2 linked regions of the Homo sapiens genome follow. The protein of the gene in region 1 interacts with the protein of each later gene in a pairwise test. Each region holds a gene or a part of one and is shown in the gene's direction. Other genes may lie near its edges.

Region 1 (7,746 bases):
CAAGGGATTTCTCTCACAAACACATTTTGATCCTCCAACAACATTTTGTCATGGTCCCTGCTCTCAGTCTAGTAATGTAAAATATTACTGACCCCCATCACACATTGCAAGCAGCACTCACTTCTTTGGAAAGCTGAGCTCTGCATGCAACATGCTGCCCAAGAAGGAAAGGAAGCAGCACTGGAGACCTGTGTTTCATAGCTAACCAAGATAAGGGCATTTTTTTCCAAATGTCTGTGGAGGGGGTCACACCATTTTAACTATTTACTGCTGTAACCCCATTTTTAAAGTGTAGTCTGTGAGCCATCTGAATCAAAGTCTCTTGCAAAATCCCGGCCAAAATCCAGACATACTGAATCAGAGGGTCAGGTCCCAGAATAGGCATTTTGAACAAACTCAGGTTCATAAAGCTTGAAAAGTTTTTGGGGCTGTTGTGCCTGTTGTTCTCTTAGTCTGGGACACTCTTGTCCAGATTGACAAAGGGCTTGCTTCATTCAGATCTGCTTAAATGTCTGCTCCTCAGAAAGGTCTTTCCTGACTACTCAATCTAATAGAGTAGCCTCTATCACCTTCATCCCCTTAATGTGCTTGATTTTTCATCAAAGTGCTTACAACCTGATATCATATTACTCTTGTGTCTGTTTATTGTCTGGCTCTTTCACTAAATGCAAGCTTCATGAACATATCCATTTCACTGTTGTACCTTTAGTGCCTAGAACAGTGCTTGATACATAGTGGATATCAGAGAATTACTCATTAAATGAATGAATAACTGCTCTATGCCCTTGAAGATTGCACTGGCCATTAGCGCTGATTGCCAAATATTTCCAGCCCTTTCCCCTTCTGAGCACAAGGTAGAATTTTACATCTGCTCCTGTTTGTAGAGTGGGGTCATATGACTAGTTCTGGCCAATAAGCTGTGAGCAAAAGTGACTGGAGCTTTTAAATGCTGATGTGGGATCCTCCAGGCTCTCTCAATCTCCCTTTGGCACAGTGACTGGCAATATTAGACATGGTGAGTCTGATGAGAAGAGAGCACCTGCCAACCTGCAAAAGGCATGTAATGTGAGCGAGAAAGGAGTCTGTTATTTCAGGGCACTCAGCTGTGGAGCTTATTACTACAGCATAACCTAACTTGTCCTGACTCTTACAGTGATTCCATGTAGACAGTTGTGCAACTGTCAGAATCCCTGGGAGTTCCCTGAAAGCTTCGGGGATTTCAGGCGACTTCAGACGCCTCAAAGTCAAACAAAACCAAAAATGTCCCCTTCAGGAAGTCAGGCCATGTTCTGTCCTTCCGTTTTCCTTCTTACTAGGGAACTTGGGGAGGGAGGCTGGGCGGCAGCAGTTAAACAACTCACCCAATGGGAAAACCAGCACGCTCTGGGACCACCTCTGAAGTGATCTCACACCCTGACCACACACTCTAAACTCACTGTCATAATCCTTCCCCTTGGTCAAAAATAAAAGCAGCACACCCACTCTGCTGGGAGTGAGTCACAAACAGAAAAAAGTCAATGGGTCTGAGCCAAGAGGATCTACTAACAAGGGGAAAGATCTCCCAGTGGAGGTGTTTCAGCGGATGCTGCGGTCTTACCCTTGTAGCCTGGATGACCAGACAGATCAAAAAAAATGTTAAAGTCCAGGCATCTGACACTACCCCAGCAATGTCCTGAGCTTATAATGAGACTAGAGTTTCTTTAGCACTTCTTCCCTGGGGAAGAAGGAATACTCTGCTGTTCATGTGGGGTGTGTGTGTGTGTGTGTGTGTGTGTGTGTGTGCATGGGAGCAAGAAAGAAGTCTATGTGTGTGTCGTGGGTTGGTGGGGAAATGCTATTTCAAGGAAGAAGGGGACTGGGCTGGGAAAACTGGCATCAGAGGAGACATGCCCCAGCCAGGGAGCCTCACATTGAGGTTAAGAAGGGCAACTGCCCGCCCCAACTCTAATTTCTTGGCTCAAGGAGATGAACTTTAAGATAAACTTTATGATAAATTTTTTGATTGGTTACATGGAGTTATATGATTAATATCTCCATTTTCATCTCTTTTCCCACCCCAGAAGCCAAATATAGGGCTCTGGCCCTGCACAATCTCCTCCCACATTCATGCTAAGAGCAGCCACTGCCACTCCACCAAATCAGAGCTGCAGGAGGAAAACAAAAACTAGAGCATTTTTCTGTACAGCCCAGACAACTGGGGAAGAGTTTTATGCCTGATGGTTTCAGATAGCCCTCAGTTTCCCGTGGCCAGAGATGACGCTCCTCCTCATGAGTCTCTCTATCCAGGAAATCTGGGCTGGGCTGCCCAAACCATGCTTTGAGGCTGCAGGGAAGGACAGAGATGGAGACTGTTAGCAATTATTTCACAAATGGCTTTTCAAAGCCGATCTTCCAGGGATGCACTTGTTGTCAGATCCCTGCTGCTTCTTGCCCCACCAGGCTGTCACTCAGAGCTCAAGCTGTTTCCATGCCCAGGACCTCACCCACCCACTGCACTCCAGGAAGGGGATGAGTCTCAAGTGTGTGGAGATGGGTAACAGAGTGTGGACACAGCAAATATTTATATGGAATACAGATTTCTGCAACAACCCCAAGAGAACTGCTTGCAGAAAAAGTGGGAGATTAAAATAAGAGACCACAAGGGCAAATTGTATTTTCCCTTTTACACCTTCAGCAGAAAGTATTCAGGAATAGCCCTCATTGGGCTTTTATCTGTCAGGTCCACTGAAGTACACTTGTCCTGGGGAGAAGGAACAGAGAAGCCCATTCTCAGAATCACCACCTCAGACCTAGAGCAATGGTTTTCCAAGTTGGGTCCCTGGATCAATAGCATCAACACCTGGGAACTTGCTCAAAATGAGCCATCTCAAACCCCAGCCCCAGACCTATAGATTCTGAAACTTTGGGGATGAAGCCCAATAATCTTAACAAGCCCTCCAGATGACTGTGATGCATACCAAGGTTTGAAAACCACTGATGTAGCAAAAGCAAGGTTAGGAGAGGGAAGAGGAAAGGTAGAGGAGGGGTGGGGCAGAGGCGGTGGCCTGTGGCTTACACCCCTCATCGGAGCTCCTCTGTTTGGTAGCACTGTGGGGTTGACTGTCCCATGGGTCATTCCTCAGAAACCACCTCATAGGGTGAGCTCCCGCCTCTGGTGAGCCCCCAGAGCCCCAGGAACCTCTCTTCTGCTACAGATTTGGGAGGCAGAGGACTATGATTACCGTGAGGGAGAAGCCATGGAGCAAAGCTGGCTGGGAATTCCCTGGCCACTGGACTCTGGAAATCTTAGGAATTACCTAAAAATTACCTCCAAGGGAAAAACAAAAAGCAAAAGTGAAGATTCCCCTACGAAGCACTAGGGGGAGACCCATCTCTGGCCTGGGAAGAGAAGGGAGAGACCAGGTCCAGAAGAATTTAGACTATTCTTCTAAAAAATGACCACCGCTAGACGGACCAAACCGAACCTGTGTTTTAAGAGGAAAGCTGTGATCACTGAGTCATAATGACGGAGCTGGAGAGTGCCACGTTAACAACCACCTGTCTCCCCACCTCCAGCCCAATGTACAGTTAACAATACTGGGGCTAGAGAGGGCCAGGGCCCAGGCCCAGGTTCAGAGATCCAGGAGTCCTCCTTATCCATAAGATGGGCCTGTTTCCATGGGCAAAGGTGCCTGTCAGGAACAACTACATAATTTGTGGGAACCAGTGCAAAAAGAAAACGCCTGGCCCTTTGTTCAAAAAGTAAGACTTTCAAGATGGTGACCGCAGAGCGTTAAACCAGACAAGGGTCCATGAAGGCTTGAAGCAAGCCTTCACGGGGGAAAGTGCCGGGAGAAAGGAGATCTCTCTTTGGGTCCCATGAGTGAACCATCCATACCAGGTTCCACTTAGGGCATTTAGGGGAACTGGTATCTCCACAGTAATTACTAGAGCAGCTCTGGGGAACGGAGGGTTGGCTAAGGAAGAAAAGCTCCCCCAACCCTTGGGGCGAGGGAGCGTTCTCTCAATGGAGCCCCCCCAACTCCCCTCCACCCCCCACCAGTCTTCCAGGAAAGAGGAATACCCTACCCGGCAGGGCTGCGAAGGAAGGGGAAATCCAACCAGAGCGAAAGTCGCACGCGGACAGCTCTGCCAGCCCTTGGAGGCATCCGGCGGTCACCCACGGGACAAAGCGCGGCTGCGGGAGCGCGCGCGGGGCATTCCGGACCCGCGTCGAGCTCCGCTCTAGAGGGGGCGGCGGGCGGCGACAAGCCGGAGAGAGGAAGGGCCAAGGAGCACGGCCCTCCTGTCGGCACCATCAGCGGGAGAGTGGCGAGCGGACGCCTAGACGGAGGGGCCCTACTCAGACCCCATCGAGCCAGTTCCCAAGCTTTTCCCTCCGACCTGCTCCCTCCCGGGGCGCGTGAGGGTGCGGGTCGGGGGTGAACCTGGTGTTGGGGAAAGTGATTGGCAAGGGAAAGAGGCAGGGCTGAAGGCCTAGGGCCCCCCGCAGAAATGCGCCCTCTGAGCTGTACTGTACAGAGGCGCTCCTCTGCGGAATCCTGCAGCTGCTCCAGGTGAAGACGCCCCCAAATCCACACTCGCGCAGACGTCGCCTGGCACGGACCCTACCCCCTTCGGTCCGTCGGCGGTTCTCTTGGGTCGTCCTTCCTGCCACTCCGACTCTCCCCGCCCCCGCCCCGCCCAGCAGGCTGCGGTTCCTTTAAAGGCGCGCTGGTGTGGGGCGGCCCCTTCTCTCGGGGCTGGCTCGGGAGTAGCGCAGTCGCCAAAGCCGCCGCTGCCAAAGCTGCCGCCACTAGCCGGGCATGGCCATGGCGTCCCCGGCCATCGGGCAGCGCCCGTACCCGCTACTATTGGACCCCGAGCCGCCGCGCTATCTACAGAGCCTGAGCGGCCCCGAGCTACCGCCGCCGCCCCCCGACCGGTCCTCGCGCCTCTGTGTCCCGGCGCCCCTCTCCACTGCGCCCGGGGCGCGCGAGGGGCGCAGCGCCCGGAGGGCTGCCCGGGGGAACCTGGAGCCCCCGCCCCGGGCCTCCCGACCCGCTCGCCCGCTCCGGCCTGGTCTGCAGCAGAGACTGCGGCGGCGGCCTGGAGCGCCCCGACCCCGCGACGTGCGGAGCATCTTCGAGCAGCCGCAGGATCCCAGAGTCCCGGCGGAGCGAGGCGAGGGGCACTGCTTCGCCGAGTTGGTGCTGCCGGGCGGCCCCGGCTGGTGTGACCTGTGCGGACGAGAGGTGCTGCGGCAGGCGCTGCGCTGCACTAGTAAGTGTGAAGGCAGGGGAGGGGCGTGCGGGGAGACCGCAGTCTGGGGGCGAAGGACTGGGAGGGCCCTGGGGCAGGGAGAGAGGGGCCATTACACTCTTTGGCTCCAGGGGAGCCCCGAACATAAGGAGATAACAACCCCTGGGGACAGTCCGCTCCTTAGTTCCCTGCCCGGTATCCTTTAGTGCCTGCCCACTACCTAGGTATGGTTATGCGGTAGTTAACAGATACCTGTCTCCTGACAGGTGCGTGCCTTGGCCCTCCACACACACACACACACACACACACACACACACTCGCACACAGGTTGTGGGGGGTGGGTGGGTGATGGCCTCGGCGGCCTCTGTCATCTCCCTGTGCACCCTCATGGTTTTGTTGTGAGTTCTTGGGAGTGGGTTGTGAGACTGCTGTTGAGATGACCGTTTGACCCTTGCTTATTAGGGTTACTGACAAAACGCTTGTTTGTCCGCCCATGGTACAGGCTCAGACCTCTCCTCCAGGGGGACGTATTGGGACAGGGAGGAGACCTTGTTAGATTTTGGATAAAGGCAGGCTGTGAGGCTGAAGAGAGCCTGAAGTCACCCTGAACCCGTGCCCCCTCCTGCCTTTCACCTCTGGCCCCTCAAACCTTTGGACTCTGCTCCAATGTTTGGCTGTGCCCTGCCTCCTCCCCTTCCTCCTCCTGGGTTCCTGCCCTAGTCGTCATGCTCTAACATTACTCAGCTCCTGACAGGGTCCCTTCCTCTCCACAGCCCTCAGGCCCCTCCAGTCACCTCCTGAGCCAGGCGCTTCTCAAAGCCAGAAAACACTGGGCCCCCAGTGTATAGATTTTCTGAGCCAATCTTCAGTCTCCTTGGGGGTTTATTATTTTTCTCCTCCTACAGTTAGGGGTGTGTATGCCTTTAATAGGTGTCCACCCTCCACCCCCACCCCGGCATTTGCTCTTGCGTGTTTATCAGAGGATATCCACAGCCATGTGTTCATGTGTTTACATGGATATTTCAAATATCTGAAGCCCAAAGCACAGACAATGGCACAGCCTCTAACAAGCATCTCTGGAAATGGATTGTGGTTTGCATCTTTCAGCAAAGGCCCTTCCCCTATGGCAGCAGCCTCACGTCTCCCATCCAACTGCAGCGTTGGACAGCAGCAGTGATTTCCACATCAGGAAAACCCTACCCTTTTTCTGCCTGCAGTCTGCAGCGGAGGCTGTTCAATGTGCTGCCCGCTGCAGCTGGCTGCAGGGAAATAGAACTCAGACACTAAGCCTGGGTCAAGTGGAAGGGAAAGATTGGAAGGGCAAGTGGGTGCTGCTCTTTCCTCCACCAGAACCCCCAGTTCAGGTGCTAATTAAGAAGGAAGGAGTAAAGGTTTGTAGAGGTACATGTTGTGGGTAGAGGGGCTGCTGTCCCTTGGTAAATGCCTTTGACTACAGTAGAATCAAATGCAACTTATCCTTGGATGTGTTGGCAGCTTTTGCACTTTCAAGATTCCCTTACTGCATCCAACAACCCTACACACAGGGAGAGAGGCAGGAGCCTCACTGAAATGGGTTTTATCATAGCTGGAATCCCAGGAAATCTGCTTCGTTGGCATTCTAGTTTGTAGTTAGACTTTGGGGGACTGTATCACTTGTTGAAGATTTTGCACATAGTTTTGTGATTTTCTTTTTTTTTTTTGGTTTGGTGATAATGGTGCGTTTGTGTGTATTTGCGTGTGCCTGTGTGTGATACTCCATGACTAAATGAATTGATCCTTACGTCACATCAGAATTGTCGATCTCCTTTGATTAAGTCATACGTCGTTTCTAGTGGCAGGAAGATCTAGGCCCCCGGGCAGTACCTCTGACTTTGTGTGTGACTTGGTGAGGTCTTTTTACTTTCCTGGGCGCTCATGGTCCCCCACAGAGTTGGTTTAATGCTAACGATGTCTGAACACTGGAGAGAAAGCAAAACTGGAATCGAGGGGCTACAGAAAGGAGTCTCTGTTTGTCATGATTAATATTTAACTAATTGTGAACCTATGGCTGGATGGCAAAAGTTGAGAAATGTTCTGATGTGCAGATGAGGGCTGGCAGGTGGAGACACAGCAGGCCAAACTCGCTGAGCATCTTTCTTTAAGTTGAAGGTCTGATTCCATGGTGAGGTTGCTTTGTTTTATCTTCATTTTGAAAAGCAAGTGTCAGAAATAGGACTTTAAAAAAAATCATACTATGCAGTAGTTAAGAGTACAGACTGGAACCAGAGCCCTGGGTTTGAATCCTGACTACCACTTAGTCCCCACGTGAGTCCTGGACATCTCTGTGTTCTGCTTCTTTGTTTAAAAAAAATAGGATAATGATATTACCTACTTCATCATGTTAATCTGAGAATTAAATGGATTAATATACATAAGGCACTCAGAACAGGGCCTAGCAAAATGCAATACGAATGTTTAATTCGATATGATTGTTATTGTCCCCTCCCATCTAACAGCTGTAACAAC
Region 2 (5,574 bases), on another chromosome or scaffold:
TGAGTCTTGACCCCTCCCCTCAGTTGGTGCTATTTCCCCCTACCCGCCCTCCGATGATCTTATCAGAGCCCACAGGTTCAGTTTTCTTTCATGCTACCTGAATGTCCTGATAAACTGGCTCGCTCTCTTCTTTACCTTCCATAATGGCATTACCATTTACCACGCCACCCAAGATACTTACTAGGAACCTCAAAGTATTGTATTCTTTTTCTCCATCACACTCATACTTAATCATCAAGTCCTTTTGAGCTTGTCTCCTCTTGAATATGTCCCTTCTTAATTCCTGCTGCCTTCTTAGTAAAGGCCTTCATTCTTTTTTCCCTAGTAATAATCTTTTCCATATGTTCCAGTTAAAATACCATGTTCTCCCTATTCCTTATTACATAGCTAGCATTCCTTGAAAAAAAACAATTCTCTCAGGCCTCCATACCTTTAGCATGTTACCCACTCTGCCTCTGCTCTTCTGGAACTAGAACACTCATCCTTGAAGGCTGGGCTTCTGTATGAAGGTTGGTCCTGCCTCCTTACTTGAGGTGAAGCTTTGTACATGCCTGTATTACGGACATCCTCTTATTTAAGTGTTTGTCTCTTTCGTCATTGGGACTCCAGCACCCAGCATAGTCCCTAGTATACTAGTTGGTGCTGAATAAATAGTAGCTATTATTAGAAAAGGAAGGGTGAAATTGACATGGGAGTTAGTAAAATGTATATGGAAATGATTTTTAAAGGGAAAGGTAATGATTTTCTGGCAGGAAAAGCAGCAATGACAAGATTACTTAAGTCTTGTGAAATAACACTTCTCTTCCTTGACCTGCTGCTTCCCTTTTTTACCACACACACACGCACACATACCACAGCCCTTTGAGACTGAAAGCAGCTCTATTGAGAATAGTAGTGTCAACTGTATTATGTAGAAATTCTAAAGTTTTTGGGATTATTTCATAGCCCTGACCTTGCTACTTCTCTCCACTTTATGTGGCAGGTTTAATCTCAGGTCTCCCTCATACACTTCTCAGCCTCAGCACCTAACCCTCACACAACACTCCAGTATTGATGCAGTCAATCTTGTATAACATTTTTTGAATGTCCAATGTGCAAAGCACGATGTTGGAAATTATACAGAGGTGAATAAGACAAAAACTCTTGCTCTCAAAGATGTCAGTCTTTTTCTTTGCAAGGATAACACATGTAGAGTAAAATGCATAAAGGGGACTAATTTTAAATGTACAGCTTAATTAATTTTTATGTATGTTAACACCCATGTCACCACCATGTTTAGGACATTTCCAGCACCCCTGAAATTTCCTTCATGCCCCTTCCCAGTCTGTACCTACACCTCTAAATCTATTTTCAATCTTAATGGCCTTTTAAATAACTGGGCTTCTCACAACCATAGTGAACAGAAACAGCTGGGTTGTCAACGTCTAACCTAATACTTCAGGAAAACTCATGATGGTTTCCATGTTAAGAGAGACATGGAGCAGGGCACTGGCATGGTGGATGGATCACGCCTGTAATCCCAGCACTTTGGGAGGCCGAGGTAGGGGGATTGCTTGAGCCCAGGAGTTCAAGACTAGCCTGGGTAATATAAGGAAAACCTGTCTCTGCAAAAAAAAAAAAAAAAAGAGGATACAACCAAATGGAAGAACATTCCATGCTCATGGGTAGGAAGAATCAATATCGTGAAAATGGCCATACTGCCCAAGGTAATTTACAGATTCAGTGCCATCCCCATCAAGCTACCAATGCCTTTCTTCACAGAATTGGAAAAAACTACTTTAAAGTTCATATGGAACCAAAAAAGAGCCCATATCGCCAAGTCAATCCTAAGCCAAAAGAACAAAGCTGGAGGCATCACACTACCTGACTTCAAACTATACTACAAGGCTACAGTAACCAAAACAGCATGGTACTGGTACCAAAACAGAGATATAGATCACTGGAACAGAACAGAGCCCTCAGAAATAACGCCGCATATCTACAACTATCTGATCTTTGACAAACCTGAGAAAAACAAGCAATGGGGAAAGGATTCCCTATTTAATAAATGGTGCTGGGAAAACTGGCTAGCCATATGTAGAAAGCTGAAACTGGATCCCTTCCTTACACCTTATACAAAAATCAATTCAAGATGGATTAAAGACTTAAACGTTAGACCTAAAACCATAAAAACCCTAGAAGAAAACCTAGGCATTACCATTCAGGACATAGGCATGGGCAAGGACTTCATGTCTAAAACACCAAAAGCAATGGCAACAAAAGCCAAAATTGACAAATGGGATCTAATTAAACTAAAGAGCTGCTGCACAGCAAAAGAAACTACCATCAGAGTGAACAGGCAACCTACAAAATGGGAGAAAATTTTCGCAACCTACTTATCTGACAAAGGGCTAATATCCAGAATCTACAATGAACTCAAACAAATTTACAAGAAAAAAACAACCCCATCAAAAAGTGGGCGAAGGACATGAACAGACACTTCTCAAAAGAAGACATTTATGCAGCCAAAAAACACATGAAAAAATGCTCATCATGACTGGCCATCAGAGAAATGCAAATCAAAACCACAATGAGATACCATCTCACACCAGTTAGAATGGCAATCATTAAAAAGTCAGGAGACAACAGGTGCTGGAGAGGATGTGGAGAAATAGGAACACTTTTACACTGTTGGTGGGACTGTAAACTAGTTCAACCATTGTGGAAGTCAGTGTGGCGATTCCTCAGGGATGTAGAACTGGAAATACCGTTTGACCCAGCCATCCCATTACTGGGTATATACCCAAAGGACTATAAATCATGCTGCTATAAAGACACATGCACACGTATGTTTATTGCGGCATTATTCACAATAGCAAAGACTTGGAACCAACCCAAATGTCCAACAATGATAGACTGGATTAAGAAAATGTGGCACATATACACCATGGAATACTATGCAGCCATAAAAAATGATGAATTCATGTCCTTTGTAGGGACATGGATGAAATTGGAAAACATCATTCTCAGTAAACTATCGCAAGAACAAGAAACCAAACACCACATATTCTCACTCATAGGTGGGAATTGAACAATGAGAACACATGGACACAGGAAGGGGAATATCACACTGGGGACTGTTGTGGGGTGGGGGGAGGGGGGAGGGATAGCATTGGGAGATATACCTAATGCTAGATGACGAGTTAGTGGGTGCAGTGCACCAGCATGGCACATGTATACATATGTAAGTAACCTGCACAATGTGCACATGTACCCTAAAGCTTAAAGTATAATAAAAAATAAATAAATAAATAAATAAGAAAAAGAAAGCCAGGCATGGTGACATGTGCCTGTGGTCCCAGCTATTAGGGAGGCTGAGGTGGGAGGATCCCTTGAACCCAGGAGGTTGAGTCTGTAGTGAGCAGTGATTACGCCACTGCACTCCAGCCTGGGCAAGACCCTGTCTCAAAAAAAAAAAAGACTTAGAATTGGTGATCCAGGCCGCCTAATGGCATCAAATAATTTGTTATATCTTTAATTTATTGAAGGATCACCACATGCTTTTAAATAGCATGGAGAAATGGAAAGAATAGGGACTTTTTACTCAGGTAATACCCAGCCTGCTACCTAACAGGTTGTGTTGTACTAAATAAAATGGTACATAAGAAGAAACACTGTAAATTATATAGTGCGAATCAAATATTGTTAATAAACCAATATCTGTATATCCTATGTCCCGGATTAATCTTTAATTTAGATACTCCTTCTAGTTATCTAATACACAGCAGAGTGAGAAAAATCATTATGGATTAGGTTCTTTAGTAAGAAACCTGAGATGGACTTCTCATTAGCATTAACTAGTTATTGCCCAGCTTTGGAGAGCCTTCTTTTGGCTTATCATTTATTATAAGCCCAGAAATAGGTGACTAATCAGAGATAAATGTATGGGTTGTCTGTATCTAGTTTTATGCCTTTTTTTTGCCTAAGACGTAGTCAAATTAATATTTTAACTAATACATCTTAGCAGAGTTTAGTTAAGCACAAAGTTAACAGTGGGTAGGATTGAATCTTGAAAGTAATCATGTCTGTAATGTTTTTCATGCATGCAAAAAGCACAGACAAAACCACTCATGCCCTATTAATAAACAAAATACAGATCAAAGTTTTCAAAAGTAATCACTCTATTTATTCTAAATGTCTGTGGCTTTAGGAAAATACCACCAGCTAGTACTTACCTATTTAAAGATGTAGAATTTATTATCCTCTAATATTCTTATCAGTTGTTTCCACAACTTTAGTTTACTATTGGACTTTCAAAAATTTAAAGAATTACAAGTAAAATTCATTAAACACTTGTGTGTGAATAGTAATACACAGTAATTAGTACAGCATGTTGCTTCTTCAACAAATTGAGTTTTCAGGGAAATCAGCAAGTAAATGAAATATAAATTTTTGGTAAAAGTATCAAACATTCATCTTGCCCATTTTTCCTCTTAAACTTTATTATCTAATCAAACATAGTTTTCCATAAGATGTAATAAAATATAGATAAGGTTGGAATATTTGAGGATCCATTTGTGGAACTGAATTTAATGAGACTTCATTGGTGATACACTCAATTTTTACTGGGTAATTAGCTAATAATGTTGGTCACTGTCTCACAGTTCAAGTAGCTTTAAGATGATGTGGCAAGGAAAACACAAAGCTTTTGGGTAACCAGCGTTCTTAAATGTATGGTTTTTGACCAGGTGAACCCTTTAGAAGTGATTTCTGTTTTAAAAGTATGTACTTAAAATACCTTTGGCTGTGATGAATGTAGATCCCAGCAGAATACCAAAATCCTATTTTTTTTGACTGAGTATTTGTAGATGCTTAATGACTGAAATGAATTTGGAGGCACTGATGAAAGTGATTTTTTTAAAGTTCTCAGGTACTGTTCAATTATTTAATGTTAAGTTTAGTATCAAGATACAGTTGTTTTTAAAATGCCAAAATGCTGTTTATTATACAGAATATTTTATTACATTTGCAATATCTTTGTATATAGTGATTTTTTTCTTGATAATAAATGGAAAAATTCTAAAACACTTGCTGAAATTTTGTTGCTATTTAACTTTTAAAATATCAGATTTTCTTCATATTTATAGCATCTTCCTAACAGGAAAAGGTAGTTTTAGTTGCTTAGAAACATTAGACATTTTTATGGAATGCTGTTGCTGAATATGGTTGCATTTGTAACTGTCCTTTGAAATAATTTTGTAGAGTACTGAAGTGCCTTTTTACAAGATTTTTTTCCTTTTTCCTTTTCTGGCTTAACCAACAAAAATCTGTTTTCAGAGTCCTGGAGGCTGAAAGTCCGAGATCAGGGGTACTAGGACGGTTTCTGCTGAGGCTCTCCTCCTGGCTTGCAGAGGGCTGCCTTCCCATCATCCTCACATGGTAGAGAGAGAGAAGGATGGAGATCTAGGGTGTCTCTTCTCTTTTTTGAGACAGAGTCTCACTCTGTCATCAAGGCTGGAGTGCAGTGGCACAATCACATCTCACTGCAACTTCTGCCTCCTGGGCTCAAGAGATCCTCCCGCCTCAGCCTCCCAA

What was found. Proteins that work in one complex are often made in the same cells at the same time.
Region 2: the proteins of RASSF5 (region 1) and REL interact in binary tests that used the Homo sapiens proteins (3 or more experiments, as listed by UniProt).

The regions. Positions count from the first base shown.
Region 1 is NC_000001.11:206,502,798-206,510,543, forward strand, and holds the start of RASSF5 (ras association domain-containing protein 5), read left to right. Parts: upstream 1-4,733; 5' UTR 4,734-4,805; coding exon 4,806-5,262; intron 5,263-7,746. UniProt on the Homo sapiens protein: Potential tumor suppressor. Seems to be involved in lymphocyte adhesion by linking RAP1A activation upon T-cell receptor or chemokine stimulation to integrin activation.
Region 2 is NC_000002.12:60,926,547-60,932,120, forward strand, and holds the end of REL (proto-oncogene c-Rel), read left to right. Parts: 3' UTR 1-5,066; downstream 5,067-5,574. UniProt on the Homo sapiens protein: Proto-oncogene that may play a role in differentiation and lymphopoiesis.